4 separate regions of the Homo sapiens genome follow, and regions 2, 3 and 4 are each reported to be linked to region 1. The links are microRNA targets in miRTarBase. Many come from high-throughput screens and were not tested one by one. Region 1 holds a microRNA gene; each other region holds the end of a gene's coding sequence.
The links. Region 1 holds the annotated microRNA hsa-miR-1296-3p (GAGUGGGGCUUCGACCCUAACC, at 916-937, shown strand). A microRNA usually pairs through its seed, bases 2 to 8, with sites in the 3' UTR of a target mRNA and lowers its output. Matches are read on the target gene's strand: a 7mer-m8 pairs with bases 2 to 8, a 7mer-A1 pairs with bases 2 to 7 and ends in A, and an 8mer does both.

Region 2: miRTarBase lists GNB2 as a target of hsa-miR-1296-3p. Seed matches in the 3' UTR shown: 7mer-m8 at 2,772-2,778 and 7mer-m8 at 2,626-2,632.
Region 3: the mRNA of TBRG1 is a reported target of hsa-miR-1296-3p. Seed matches in the 3' UTR shown: 7mer-A1 at 2,175-2,181.
Region 4: the mRNA of OIP5 is a reported target of hsa-miR-1296-3p. The part of its 3' UTR that is shown has no 7-base or 8-base seed match.

What each region holds. Positions count from the first base shown.
Region 1 is chr10:63,370,828-63,373,905 of GRCh38, reverse strand. MIR1296 (microRNA 1296) reads left to right here and starts at 858; the gene lies at 858-949. All of the region lies in intron 2 of JMJD1C (jumonji domain containing 1C), which reads left to right.
Region 2 is chr7:100,678,511-100,681,588 of GRCh38, reverse strand. GNB2 (G protein subunit beta 2) reads right to left here. Exons shown (of 10, transcript NM_005273.4): 9 at 2,975-3,078; 10 at 2,420-2,894. The coding sequence ends at 2,788. GIGYF1 (GRB10 interacting GYF protein 1) reads left to right here. Exons shown (of 27, transcript NM_001375765.1): 27 at 1-2,082. Among named protein-coding and RNA genes, the nearest start is that of GNB2, 6.3 kb to the right of the region's middle. RefSeq lists an enhancer at 2,232-2,361.
Region 3 is chr11:124,631,669-124,634,746 of GRCh38, forward strand. It overlaps TBRG1 (transforming growth factor beta regulator 1), which reads left to right. Exons shown (of 9, transcript NM_032811.3): 9 at 425-3,078. The coding sequence ends at 570. It overlaps SIAE (sialic acid acetylesterase), which reads right to left. Exons shown (of 10, transcript NM_170601.5): 10 at 1,445-3,078. Among named protein-coding and RNA genes, the nearest start is that of TBRG1, 10 kb to the left of the region's middle.
Region 4 is chr15:41,306,998-41,310,075 of GRCh38, reverse strand. OIP5 (Opa interacting protein 5) reads left to right here. Exons shown (of 5, transcript NM_007280.2): 5 at 227-803. The coding sequence ends at 322. OIP5-AS1 (OIP5 antisense RNA 1) reads right to left here. Exons shown (of 5, transcript NR_152821.1): 3 at 1,452-1,509; 4 at 1,235-1,356. Among named protein-coding and RNA genes, the nearest start is that of OIP5, 24 kb to the left of the region's middle.

The DNA of each region.
Region 1 (3,078 bases):
TTTTGCAAACATTTATATACAGTTGATATGACTGAGATTTTATTGTTTCCTTTTTTGTTCATTAAAATTTGGCTTCTTTAAGGATGTCTATAAACAGCAATTATAAAGTTAAGCGTTTTAAAATTCCTACAGCGTAATGAAATACTATATCTACAGATTTGAGAAATTTGAGGGATCTGTATATGAGATGGCAATAGAATGAAACAGTAGAAACTAATACTTTGTCTTTAATTTTCTACAAATTTAATGTTTCTATTTCTGTGCACATGATACTTGCTTTATGTTCTTTTGTATTTAAACATGTTTGTATTTATTATCTTCTTTCTAGTTGTTTCACTCCTCGTGTGGTACTTGTTTAATATTACATATCAGTTACGTTATCTTGTCTACCTCTTATACCTAGAAATTAGTGGAAACTGGCAGTGTACCTGCTGTTTCTTGAGATCATGACAAGACAAAAACAAATCCTGTTGTCTCATTAACATATTTTAAAGTATATTTTTTAAAACTTAACATAATTGCATCTTCAGCAAAATATGAATAGTATAATACCCAGGCTCCTTCTCTGGAATTGTCTGGTTCCTCTTTCTTTCTAGGATATCAGTAGCAAAACATTTATGGGAGCACCACATGTAAGATGCTGAAGTGGTGTCTTTTTTTGCTTGGTCCTGTACAATCAGAGTACCACTTGAGGCCATTCTAATGCTGTAGGCTGAGGTAACTTGCGTCTTCATGTAAGTTACTTAATAGATTGTTAAATTTTATTTACTTTTTAATAAAGTAAAATACTTGTGAAAGCACATTTATCGGCACCAGGGAAAGAAAGTGTTGGCATTCATAATTGAAATCAACGAATCACCTACCTAACTGGGTTAGGGCCCTGGCTCCATCTCCTTTAGGAAAACCTTCTGTGGGGAGTGGGGCTTCGACCCTAACCCAGGTGGGCTGTAACACTGCTGTGTTTTCTAAGGGGCAGAGTTTTCTACTACTTTTCCGCTGGCCCAGCCTTCCAGATCACCCCAACCAGTGCTCCTATATAACCATCCTGTGCTCCTATAGAACTTTGTTTTGTACCTCTGTTTTAACAATCAGCACATTCTGCTTTGTATTATACCTATTTGTTTGCATGTCTGTCTTCCCTTAATAGATTGTAAGTTCTTTGAGGACAGGAGTCATGTCTTAGTCATCTATGTATGGTTCCTTGGAGTCTAGCACAGTGCTTTACCCATCTCAGAAAGTAAATTCTTATTTTAAAGTGATGAATGTGCTGCAACCCAGCTAGTGAAAAAGAACCCTACTGGGAGTTATCACAAGTTTTCTGACTATTAACATATGATAATATCAAAGGACAGGAAAGCAGAATCACCCAATTGTGGTAAAACTGTGAGTTACCAATTTTAAACATGTCAATATATAATAAAAAATACTAAAAAGCTTATAATGCCAATTCTCATCAGGTACAAATTTGATTCCTGAAATCACCAAGGGGAAAAATGTAAAATTACCTGAAATGCGTTATTTTAAAGATGTTAAAGGAAGAAACAGAAGTCCTCACAATTGACTTAAATATTCAAATCTTTGATAATTTACTTGAATTTCTGAATTGAGTTTTAGGAAACTCAGACTACTTTTTCTCAATGTAGCTTTTCCTTCATAGATAGGCAATTCTGGTTCAACCAGGAATTGTGATGACATCATAAACACGTAAACTCTTAGCAATTTATTTATTTTAAAATATTCTCTTAGAGTGCTTTTTACTTACTATCTGTTCCAAAAGAAACCCCCTCAAAGGAGAATAGAGTTCACTGCTCTTTGGGACAAGATTACCTTTATATCCAGCAGTTATCAAAGTTGGTTTAGATTATGGCCTCAAGCAAATTTTACTAAAATGTGAAAATATGCCACCTTCCAAGTCAGAAATAAACTTTGGAGTATGTTCATTTAAAGAGTTTTTACATATTTATAATTGAATTTCCACAATTAGAATAAACAGTTGCATGTCTTTTTGTACTTTGTTAAATAATGAAATGGAAGTAATGACAATATAACTTCAGGATTGTTATTTCTCTACAAGGTAAAGCACTTTAAGAGATCAAATTATACATAATAAAATATTAAGCTTTTTAAATGATAAACTCTAATACTGGCATGTATTGCAATGAACGAGTTCACACACTCATATCTTGTGGATTATAAAATGACATTATTCTTTTGGAAAGTATTATGTTATAAGAACCATAAGAAGTTCATACTCTTTGATTCATTAATTCTAGTCTTAGGAAACGATGCTTGAAAAACAGTTTTTAAAAAGTGTATTCAGTTTAGCTAATGTTTGTCACGTACCTCATACGAATTAGACACTGTGGTGGGAGCTGCAGATTAAAAAAATGAAAGGTTTAATGTTATTAGAAGAAAGATGTTTATTGCAGTCTTATTAAAGAGGAAAAGAAAAATGGAACAACCTTGATGTTCAACAATTTGTGAATGCTGTTAAATTAATATTTTGGCATATTATGCAGCTTTAAAAGTGATAATTGTACATACTTTAGGAAAATGTAGAGAAAATTTAAGTAAAAAAAATTAATTACATCAGCACTAGAATTATGTATTTAAAAAGTCTTATAGACCAGGGACAGTGGCTCATGCCTATAATCCCAGCACTTTGGGAGGTTGAGGCGGGAGAATTGCTTGAGTCCAGGAGTTCAAGACCAGCCAGGGCAGCATAGCTATACCCTCATCCCTACCAAAAAAAAAAAAAAATTAGCCTATTGTAGTGGCGCAAGCCTTGTAGTCCCAGCTACTCAGGAGGTTGAGGTGGGAGGATTGCTTGACTCCAGGAGTACAAGGCTATGGTGAGCTATGATTATGCCATTGCACTCCAGCCTGGGCAATGGAGCAAGACCCTGTCTCAACGGAAAATATATATATTATAAAGTAATGGAGATCATTATTTTATATTATGGCAGAATTTTGCCTGACCAAAATTGTCTTTTCCCTAAAAAACAACTATTATTTCCTAGCAAATTGGAAATTTCATATAATGATGTTATTCAGTATTTTATATTTTGGAGGTAGTCT
Region 2 (3,078 bases), not on the chromosome of region 1:
CAAACACACGATGCACCTTAACTCACCCACCACGAGGCACTTTACAGACTGGGGGAGGGGGTTTTTCTTTTTATTTTTTTTTTTAATTTTAAACGACTGAAGAAAACATTAGGAGAGGCAAAAATATTGTTAAAAACTAGACTCTAAACACCCCTTCCTGCTGTGAGGATAGTGGGTGTGACAATGGAAGGTCCACAGAGGTTTTTGTTTTTTGGTTTTTTTTTTTTTTTTAAGAAAAAAAGATGAAAAATGAAAAAAAAAATGGTTAGGAGGCTGAAAGAAAAAACACACTGTTATTTTGGGGCAGTGGGGACACAGGCCCCGTGGACCTGTCCTGCCTGGCCCCCAAGGCCATACTTACCCCCCAGAAGGCGGGCCATGGGGTAACTGGAAGCTGGGGGCCAGCAGTTTGCACAGGAGGCCTGTCTGAGCCCCACCCGCCAGACCTGTTGTGAGCAGCTCCTGTCACTGAGGCTGGCTGAGGTGTCCGGGGTGGGGCCAAAGTAGCCCCTTGGCTTCGCTGCTTTGGGGGACAGTTGCACAAATTGGACGAGTGGCCCCAGCTCTCTGGCTGCCATCTTGTGCTGGCCGAGTAGACGGGAGGGGCCAAGCCGTGCCAACCTCTCTGGCTGGCAGGGTGGGGCAGCAGGACTCTGGTTCTGGTGAGGGGCGTCTCCCACTGCTGCCATTTTGGGGGACACCCTGGGTTTGAACCTGAAAGCCCCAGCTCTCTGCCTTGCCACGTGAATGTATTCTTTGGGCCACAAGCCCCCGCCTCACCCCTGCCTGAGCTGCCTCACCCCTGTGAGCGGCGGGGGTGGATGATTGCTCCAGAGGCTGCAGAGAGAAGGCTGAGCTGTTTCTCCAGTGAAGGGGGCAGGAGGAGGGGCCTCAAAGGCAAGGAGTGGGTGGCTTTGGGCTTAGGGTTGCAGTAGAGGGGCTGCCGCCCGGGGCCCCAACCTGTAGCCAGCTCGTAAGATGTGGACCACCCAGCTCTGCACCTGACCCTTCCGCTGACCAAATGGGAGAGGAGCAGGTGGCCTTCCGGGTCTGATATGATGCGCTTTTTACCGTTGGGTAAGGTTGGGGTGAAGAGAAGTGTGCGGCTCCTGGGTCAGAGGAGGCTGCCCCTTCTATTGCTCACCCACTTCTTATTCCCGGTCCCCTACTTGGGTTCGTCTCCGCCCATTTTGGGTTTTGTAACAGTTTTGTCTTTTGGGTTTCTCATCCAGCTCCTCCCATTGACCTCATTGCTCAGAGTGCAGTATTAGGGCAAGGCTTCGCCACTGCCTCCCTCCATGAATGTATTTCTCCCTCCTGCCCTGGGGACATGGGGAGTGGCCCGTTTCTTTCCCCATCTAGTCCCAGAAAGATGGTGTTTGGTTTTCTGTTGTTGGATTTTTTTTTTTTTTTTTTTTTTTTTGCACCAAAGTGGCAACTAGGTCAGTGTTGGGGGATCAAGCTGGCCTCGGGGTGGGGGGCCCCCACCTGCCTCTCCCTGGTTCCCACAGTGTTAGCGTCCCTGAAAAGACAATATTCTCTCTAAAGCAATAAGGGGTGACGGGCCGGGGGGAGTGTTTGCTGCTGCTGGCCCCCAGCTCCCCTTCCCTCTTGCCAGGTGTGGGGGAGACTCCTGTTGTGACTGAATGTAACCCCCCCACCCCTGCCGCAGCCAATGCAGGGGAAGGGGGACACTCTTCCTGTCTCTTCTCCCCAGCTAAAGAGACTTTGGACTTAGGGGGCCCATGAGCCTGGAGAGGCCTTAACCCTGTGAGGAAGTATAGGGGGAGCCCTCTCCCACCCCCATCCCCTTCTGAGAGTGGTCAATGTTTACAAGCCCCTGAGCCCCCCTGCCCAGGGACTCAGACCCTGTTGCTGTCCTTCCCCGGCCCCGGTCTTCCTGGGCCCTCGCTGCTCCCCTGCCCTTCCTGGGGTTGGGGTGGGTGCAGGGGTCACCGTGTTCCCTGTCTGCCTTGTACCCACAGTCTCCCCGCCCCCTCTCCACCCTGTGTGACTTCCCTCTCTTTTACCTGCTCCTGTAAATACTCCCTTCTCCCAATAAAACTTGGTGTGTGTTCTCCCGTTCCGCCTCCACTGCTCGTTATCTGGGGAGAGCCATGGGGATGAGTGGCTCTGCACAGAGCTGGGAACTAGGAGCTCTGAGCAGTGCCCGCCTGGTCAGGCTGGCTCTGGTCAGCAGCCTGACGGGGGAAACCATGGTGAGGGCTGCTTATCCGAGAACCTCTGGACGGAAGGCTCTGGGCTGGGGCTTCAGCTTTGCTCTGAGGGAGAGTGGGGACCCCACCCCCAGCCCCAGCTGCCTGGCAGGCCCCATACCTTCCCCACCATCCACCCCCTCAGCAGCCCTCAGGCAACAAAGTCCAGAAACAAGGAGAACACAGCAAGGGCAGAGACCAGGTACAGAGTTGGAATTGGCTCCTTTATGGAAAAACTGAAAATATAATAAAAATTAAAATAAAACCAGTTTTAAAAAAGCCAGCCCCTGGGGTTTCCACCTCCTGCCTCCGGCCCTCCAGAGGGGTGAGGCCCCAACCCCAGGGCAGCAGAAGGATGAGGGCCTCCTGCTCCTCCTCTTCCCCCATTCCATCCCCTTCTTATCTCCACAGTGGGGGCCCCGGGAGGAACCAAACCTGGGTGGGAGGGCAGGGACCCAAGGCCCCGTGGCCCGGGGAAGGGGGCTGGGATTGCGCCAGCCCCGCAGCCCTGGCCTGTAGTGTGGGCATGGGCAGGGCCCCTCCTGGCCTGGGCCCAGTGGGGGTGGGGCCATTAGTTCCAGATCTTGAGGAAGGAGTCCCAGGAGCCCGTGGCCACAGCCATGCCATCGTCGGTGACCCCGAGGCAGCTCACGCGGTTGTCGTGGCCAGCGAGGACTCCTGTGAAGAAGAGAGAAGTCAGAACCCATTGGGCCTGGGCTCCAGGTCCCTGCCCACCCAGCCTGGGCCCCAGCTGTCACCTGCACGGTCGCCCTTCATGGCATCCCAGATGTTGCAGTTGAAGTCGTCGTAGCCAGCGAGCAGCAGCCGTCCGCTGCGCGAGAAGGCAACAGAGGTGATGCCA
Region 3 (3,078 bases), not on the chromosome of region 1:
CTGTAACCTAAGCAAGACTGGAGCAGAACACCAGGGGAAAGTTTACTGTGCAGGGAATAACATTTCAAGTGAAGTCAGTGGGGTCAAGTCAAGGCCTTGGCCCTGCCTGTGTTCCATGAGTTCCTCCCACAAATGAGTGATCAAGGGTTCAGGCTTTGGGGTCATATAGGGAAAACTCTGGGTTAAAAAATGGAATTGAAATTCTCACTCTTTGCCTAATATACTATATAACCCTAGGCAAGTCACTTAATGTTTCAACCAGTTTTCATTGTAAAAGTATCTGTCCTATCTTAACAAAGGCAAAATTGAGCTGACAAATGCAAGGGTGTTAAGGAATTGATTGAAAGGACATGTATATGTCTGACCAAAACAGTCTGCCCAGACTCCCGAGCAGCAGTGGAACTTAAGGAATTGTTTTCTCCAGGATCCTTGGACCTCCCAGAGCTTCAGCCTGCAGCCTTTGTGTCTTCTTACCAGCCCATGTACCTGACACATGAACCCTTGGTAGATACTCACCTGCAGCACTTGAAGTCTCCATCACAGGGTAGCCCAATTCAGTCTTCAGATTGAACAAGAAGGGATCAGATGCCACATCGTTTTTGTCGTGATTAATTTAACTTAAACTAAAATTTTGGGTATATGAAAGAAGGCAGCAATTCAGAAGTAAAGAAGATACTAACGTATTTCATCATGGAAGGTCCTGTGGTGATGGTTTTCCCTGGGAAAACCTTCAGCTGCTTTATTTTTAGTAATAAATTTCTCTTGTCAATTCTGTTTACTTTCATCTTGTAATCGGGATGTAATCTTTTTTGCTTAGCTCTGCCTGAGGTAAAGTAAACTTCAGCCTCTTATAAACAAGAGTGATAGAGAGCTGCAGGCTGCTACAACAAATACCATAGACAGGTTGGTTTATAAATAACATGAATTTATTTCTCACAGTTCTGGATGCTGGGAAGTCCAAGTTCAAGGAGCGCAGATTCAATGTCTGGTGAGGGCCCACTTCCTAGTTCTTAGACAGCTGTCTTCCTGCAGTGTCCTCACGTGGTAGAAGAGGAAGGCAGCTCTCCGGGGTCCCTTTTATAAGATCACTAAGCCGGTTCATGAGAGGTCTGCTCTCATGACCTAATCACCTCCCAAAGGCCCCACCTCCCAATACCATCACATTAGGGGTTAGGATTTAACATGAATTTTGGGGACATATAAACATTAAGTCTGTAGTAGCAGCAGCTGACTAACGAGGGAGATAGGGAGATTCTGACAAACTTCTACTCTTGATTGTGATCCTAATTCAAGGAATATCAAGTCCCAGCCCCTGCAACCCAGGCTGCTGCTTAATTTTCATGTCAGTATCATCAAAATCCAATGTTCTGCTTAAACTCAAGATGGAAAGTCCAGTCCAAGGTACACTGTTCATCTTTTTCTTCACATTTTGCACATCCTTCAAGGGGATCTTTAACCTCTTTAACCTTTGTATTGCACCTCAGATAATGTGCTTTTTAGCTCAGTACACTGAAACCATATGATAACACAAATTCACATATAATTGGGGGTTAGTCCCATACTCTATAACAGACTTAGTCCTGTCTTTTCATTAGCCATGTAATAATATAACTCCATGTTCCATGCAACTGGATTTTTGGACCCTGTTAATAGCATTAAGGTAGAGGTTTACTCTATCACCTAACACCTCAACACTACCTGTGGGATGCCTTAGTTACCCAGCAGCAGGTTACCAAGGGCTGTCTGGAAAGGGAGGGACAAAAGGACCCAGAAGTAGAAGAATGGGGATGGAGTGGTGAGAATTGAATGGTTAATGCACTGCCATTCATAATTGCCAATTGAGGACAACACAAATGGGATTGGTACTTTATAGTAATAAATCTGACCAGCAGAGGGAGGGATCAGGCAGCAGTGTTTAGAGCACACCACACTGGCCACTGTAAACTGAGAAGCTAAGTTAACTGGTATTTTATGATTTTGAGTATAGTCTTTTTATAAGTTGTATACACTTTACAATGTAAAAGAAACAAACTTTGTATAATAGCAAATCGGGAAGGGGACTGCTTAAAATGTTAATGCAGTGTTTTTCTTTTTTTCTCTGCATAAATGGCTTGAGCATACTGGCATTTACACAGAAATGATATATGCTGCTTTTATCATATAACAAATATTTTCCCACTATTACAGCCTGAGTAATACCCGTATTAAAAGAGCCTCATTTTAGAAAGACATTTAAAATTTTTGGAACATACCACATGTAGAAAGGTTGAACTGGTTTTTCAGCTATAATGCATATACAACTATAGTGTGTACGTATACCACATATACATATACTTGTATGAAGATATGTGTAAAATGTTTTTACTATGGATCATGGATTTAAGAAACTTGAAAAGCTGGGCACGGTGGCTCACGCCTGTAATCCCAGCACTTTGGGAGGCTGAGGCGGGTGGATCAAGAGGTCAGGAGATCGAGACCATCCTGGCTAAGTCGGTCTCTAATAAAAATACAAAAAATTAGCCAGGCGTGGTGGCACGCGCCTGTAGTCCCAGCTACTCGGGAGGCTGAGGCAGGAAGAATCGCTTGAACCCGGGAGGCAGAGGTTGCAGTGAGCCGAGACCGCGCCACTGCACTCCAGCCTGGGCAACAGAGCAAAACTCCAACTCAAAAACAAAAACAAAAACACCTTGAAAAACACTGCCTTAGTATACTTAAACTATCTTTTCATCTATCAGATTGTTAAGGATTTTTTTTAAATTTGACAACATCCAGTGTCAATGAGGGTGAGGGCAAAAAAAGGACTACCTTGGTGAGAATGTAAGTTGTTTAATCCTTTGGGAGGGTTAAGCTGTAGATATCTAAATTTTAAATATATATTTATCCTCTTCCATGTTAAGAACCCTAAGAAATAACTGGACGAGTGTGGTATGATGTTTGCATGTGATATTCATTACAGTATTATTTTAATAGTAGAAAATTGTTAAAAATCTATATGTCCATTAATAGGAAATTGGTTAAATAAAATGAGGCTTCCACAAACTGAAACACTCTAAATCTATATTCTATTATTTACATAAG
Region 4 (3,078 bases), not on the chromosome of region 1:
AAAGCAAGACCCCCATCTCTACAAAGAAAATTTAAAACACATGACTGTAGTCCTAGCTAATCAGGAGGCTGAAGTGGGAGGATCACTTGAGAGCAGGAGCTTGAGGCTGCAGTGAACTATGAATGTGCCACTGTACTCCAGCTCAGGCAACAGAGTGAGACCCTGTCTCTTAAAATAAGTAAAAATAAAAAAAGATGCCCTGATATCTATATATTTCTCTTCCTAGCTGAAAGAGAAGATAGTGCTAACGCACAATCGCTTAAAATCACTAATGAAGATTCTGAGTGAAGTGACTCCTGACCAGTCCAAGCCAGAAAACTGATCCTGTACCAAAGCTTGAGTGTCAGGTTCAGGCTTTATTGCTGTCTTCAACAACAGGTGCTGCTTAGTCATTTCTTGAAAAAGATTGGCTTCAAGAATGGAGGGGAAATGCAGTTTCTATTTACCTTTAGGCTGATTTTCCAAATTATTTGTGAAGCTGTTTTTAGAAGATGAGAGACTAAGGATTCTTCTCTTTTATAGCTATTTGCCTTAAGAACTTACTTTAGATTCTTATTGAATTCATAATACTTATCTCTGAAAATGTCTTTGACTGTAAATTTAGGAATTAAGATGCAGAGTCCCATGTGTCCTCTGATCTAAAGTTGCATGGTTGGTCTGAAAATAGAGTTGGGCTTAATGTTGACTTCTATTACTCCTGCATGGAGCAGTTGTTATGAATACTAATACATCACTTTTTAACTTCTGTAAAATACAGATCATAATATTCTATAGGTAATGTTTAATAAATTGCCTGAATAATATACAATTTGTCTTTTTCAGTTGTAAACTGAGGTTAACAGAGAAATAATGAAAGCAATGATAAAACGAAACAGTTACCAAAGTACTATTTTCTATAATTTTGTTTTATGTAGCACTTTGAGTAACTTATCAAAATATTAATTTAATATATATTTGTAAAGTGTTAGACTAGGTGCTGGGGATAAAAGGTAAGCAAAAATAGACACACTATCCTTAGAATTTATAATCTAGTCAGAGAGGGACATTCAAATAATCACATAAAGATACATAAAATTACAGGCCTGGCGCAGTGGCTCACATCTATAATTCCAGATTTTCGGAGGCCGAGGCAGTGGATCACTTGAGGTCAGGAGTTCAAGACCAGCCTCGCCAACGTGGTGAAACCTCGTCTCTACTAAAAATACAAAAATTAGCCAGGCATGGTGGTGCGCACCTGTAATCCCAGCTACTCAGGAACCTGAGGCAGAAGAATTGCTTGAACCCAGCAGGTAGAGGCTGCAGTCAGCCGAGATCGTGCCACTGCACTCCAGCCTGGGCGACAGAGTGAAACTCCATCTAAAAAAAAAAAAAGATATGTAAAATTATGACGCTAGTAAGGGTTTTGAAGTAAAGGAACATAGGGATACACGCACATAAAGCAGGTAACTGACCTGGTCTGGGTTTCTGGGAAAGAAAGCCTCTGTGTAGAAGTGAAGTTTCAGCGGTGGTCTGAAAGACGAATAGGAATTAATAAGGTGATGGAGGGATGACCTTTATGAGGTCCTTAAAAGAAGGCCTGCCTAATCAAATTTACTTTTTCAGAATGTCACTGTGGTTGTCCTGTGGAAAACAGGTGGGAAGGACAGCAAGCAGACCACTAAGGAGAGCCTTTGGCACTAGCACAATCAAGAAATTACATATCCAAGTGGTGGAGGATAGAAAAGCTAACTTGGCTGGGATGTAGCTAGCAGAATATATATATATAAATTTTTTTTTTTTCTTCCCGAGATGGAGTCTTGCTCTGTCGCCCAGGCTGGCGTGCAGTGGCCTGATCTCTGCAACTGCCATCTCCCGAGTGTTGAAGCGATTCTCCTGTCTCAGCCTCCTGAGTAGCTGGGATTACAGGTGCATGCCGCCACGCCCGGCTAATTTTTTGTATTTTAGTAGAGACGGGGTTTCACCGTGTTGCCCAGGGTGGTCTCGAACTCCTGAGCTCAGGCAAATCCACCCACCTTGGCCTCCCAAACTGCTAGGATAACAGGCGTGAGCCACTGCGACTGGCCTGCTTATGCTTTTTTTGAGGGGAGGGTGGTGAGACAGGGTCTCACTCTGTCACCCAGGCCTGAGTGCAGAGGTGTGAACATGGCCCACTGCAGCCTTGACTTCCTGGTCTCAAGTGATCCTCCCAACTGTATCCTGAATAGCTGGCACCACAGGTTTGTGTCACCACGCCTGGCTAATTAAAAAAAAAAAAAAAATTGTAGAGACAAGGCCTCACTGTGGGCTCAAACTGGGCTCAAGGGATCCTCACTTCAGCCTTCTGAAGTGTTGGAATTACAGCGGTGAGCCATTGTGCCAGGTCTGATTATGCGTAGAGTTGCAAAAATTTGGTCCTATAAGCAAGGTTGATGCTTTCTGGCAAAAACCAGCCCAATAAAAGCTTTTACTTTTTAAAGAATAAGACCTAATATAGGCCAGGTGCAGTGGCTCACGCCTGTAATCCCAGCACTTTGGGAGGCCAAGGCGGTCAGATCACGAGGTCAGGAGTTCCAGACCAGCCTGCCCAACATAGTGAAACCCTGTCTCTACTAAAAATACAAAAATTAGCTGAGCATGTGGCGTGTGTCTGTAGTCCCACTACTCGGGAGGCTGAGGCAGGAGAATCGCTTGAACCTGGGAGGCAGAGGTTGTGGGGAGCCAAGATCATGCCACTGCATGCCAGCCTGGGTGACAGAGTGAGACGCCGTCTCAAAAAAAAAAAAAAAAGACCTAATAAGTACCACATTGAGTCACCCCTGGTTGCTCTGGGCGACAGAGCAAGACTCCGTCTCTAAATAAATAAATAAATAAAATTAAATGCTTGACCTTTACGTCAAATTAAACTGGCTAGCTTTAAATAGATTTTTTTCAGATTACATGCTCACTCTAGAAAAAAGAGATGTGTGACAAAATACAGAGTGAAAGTATACTTCTTCCCTTTCTATTTTTTGAGAAGCACAATATAGCATCCTGGTAAGTGAGCAGGCTCTGGAACCAAACTGGATTGAAACTGTGGCTTGGGTACTTACTAGCCATGAA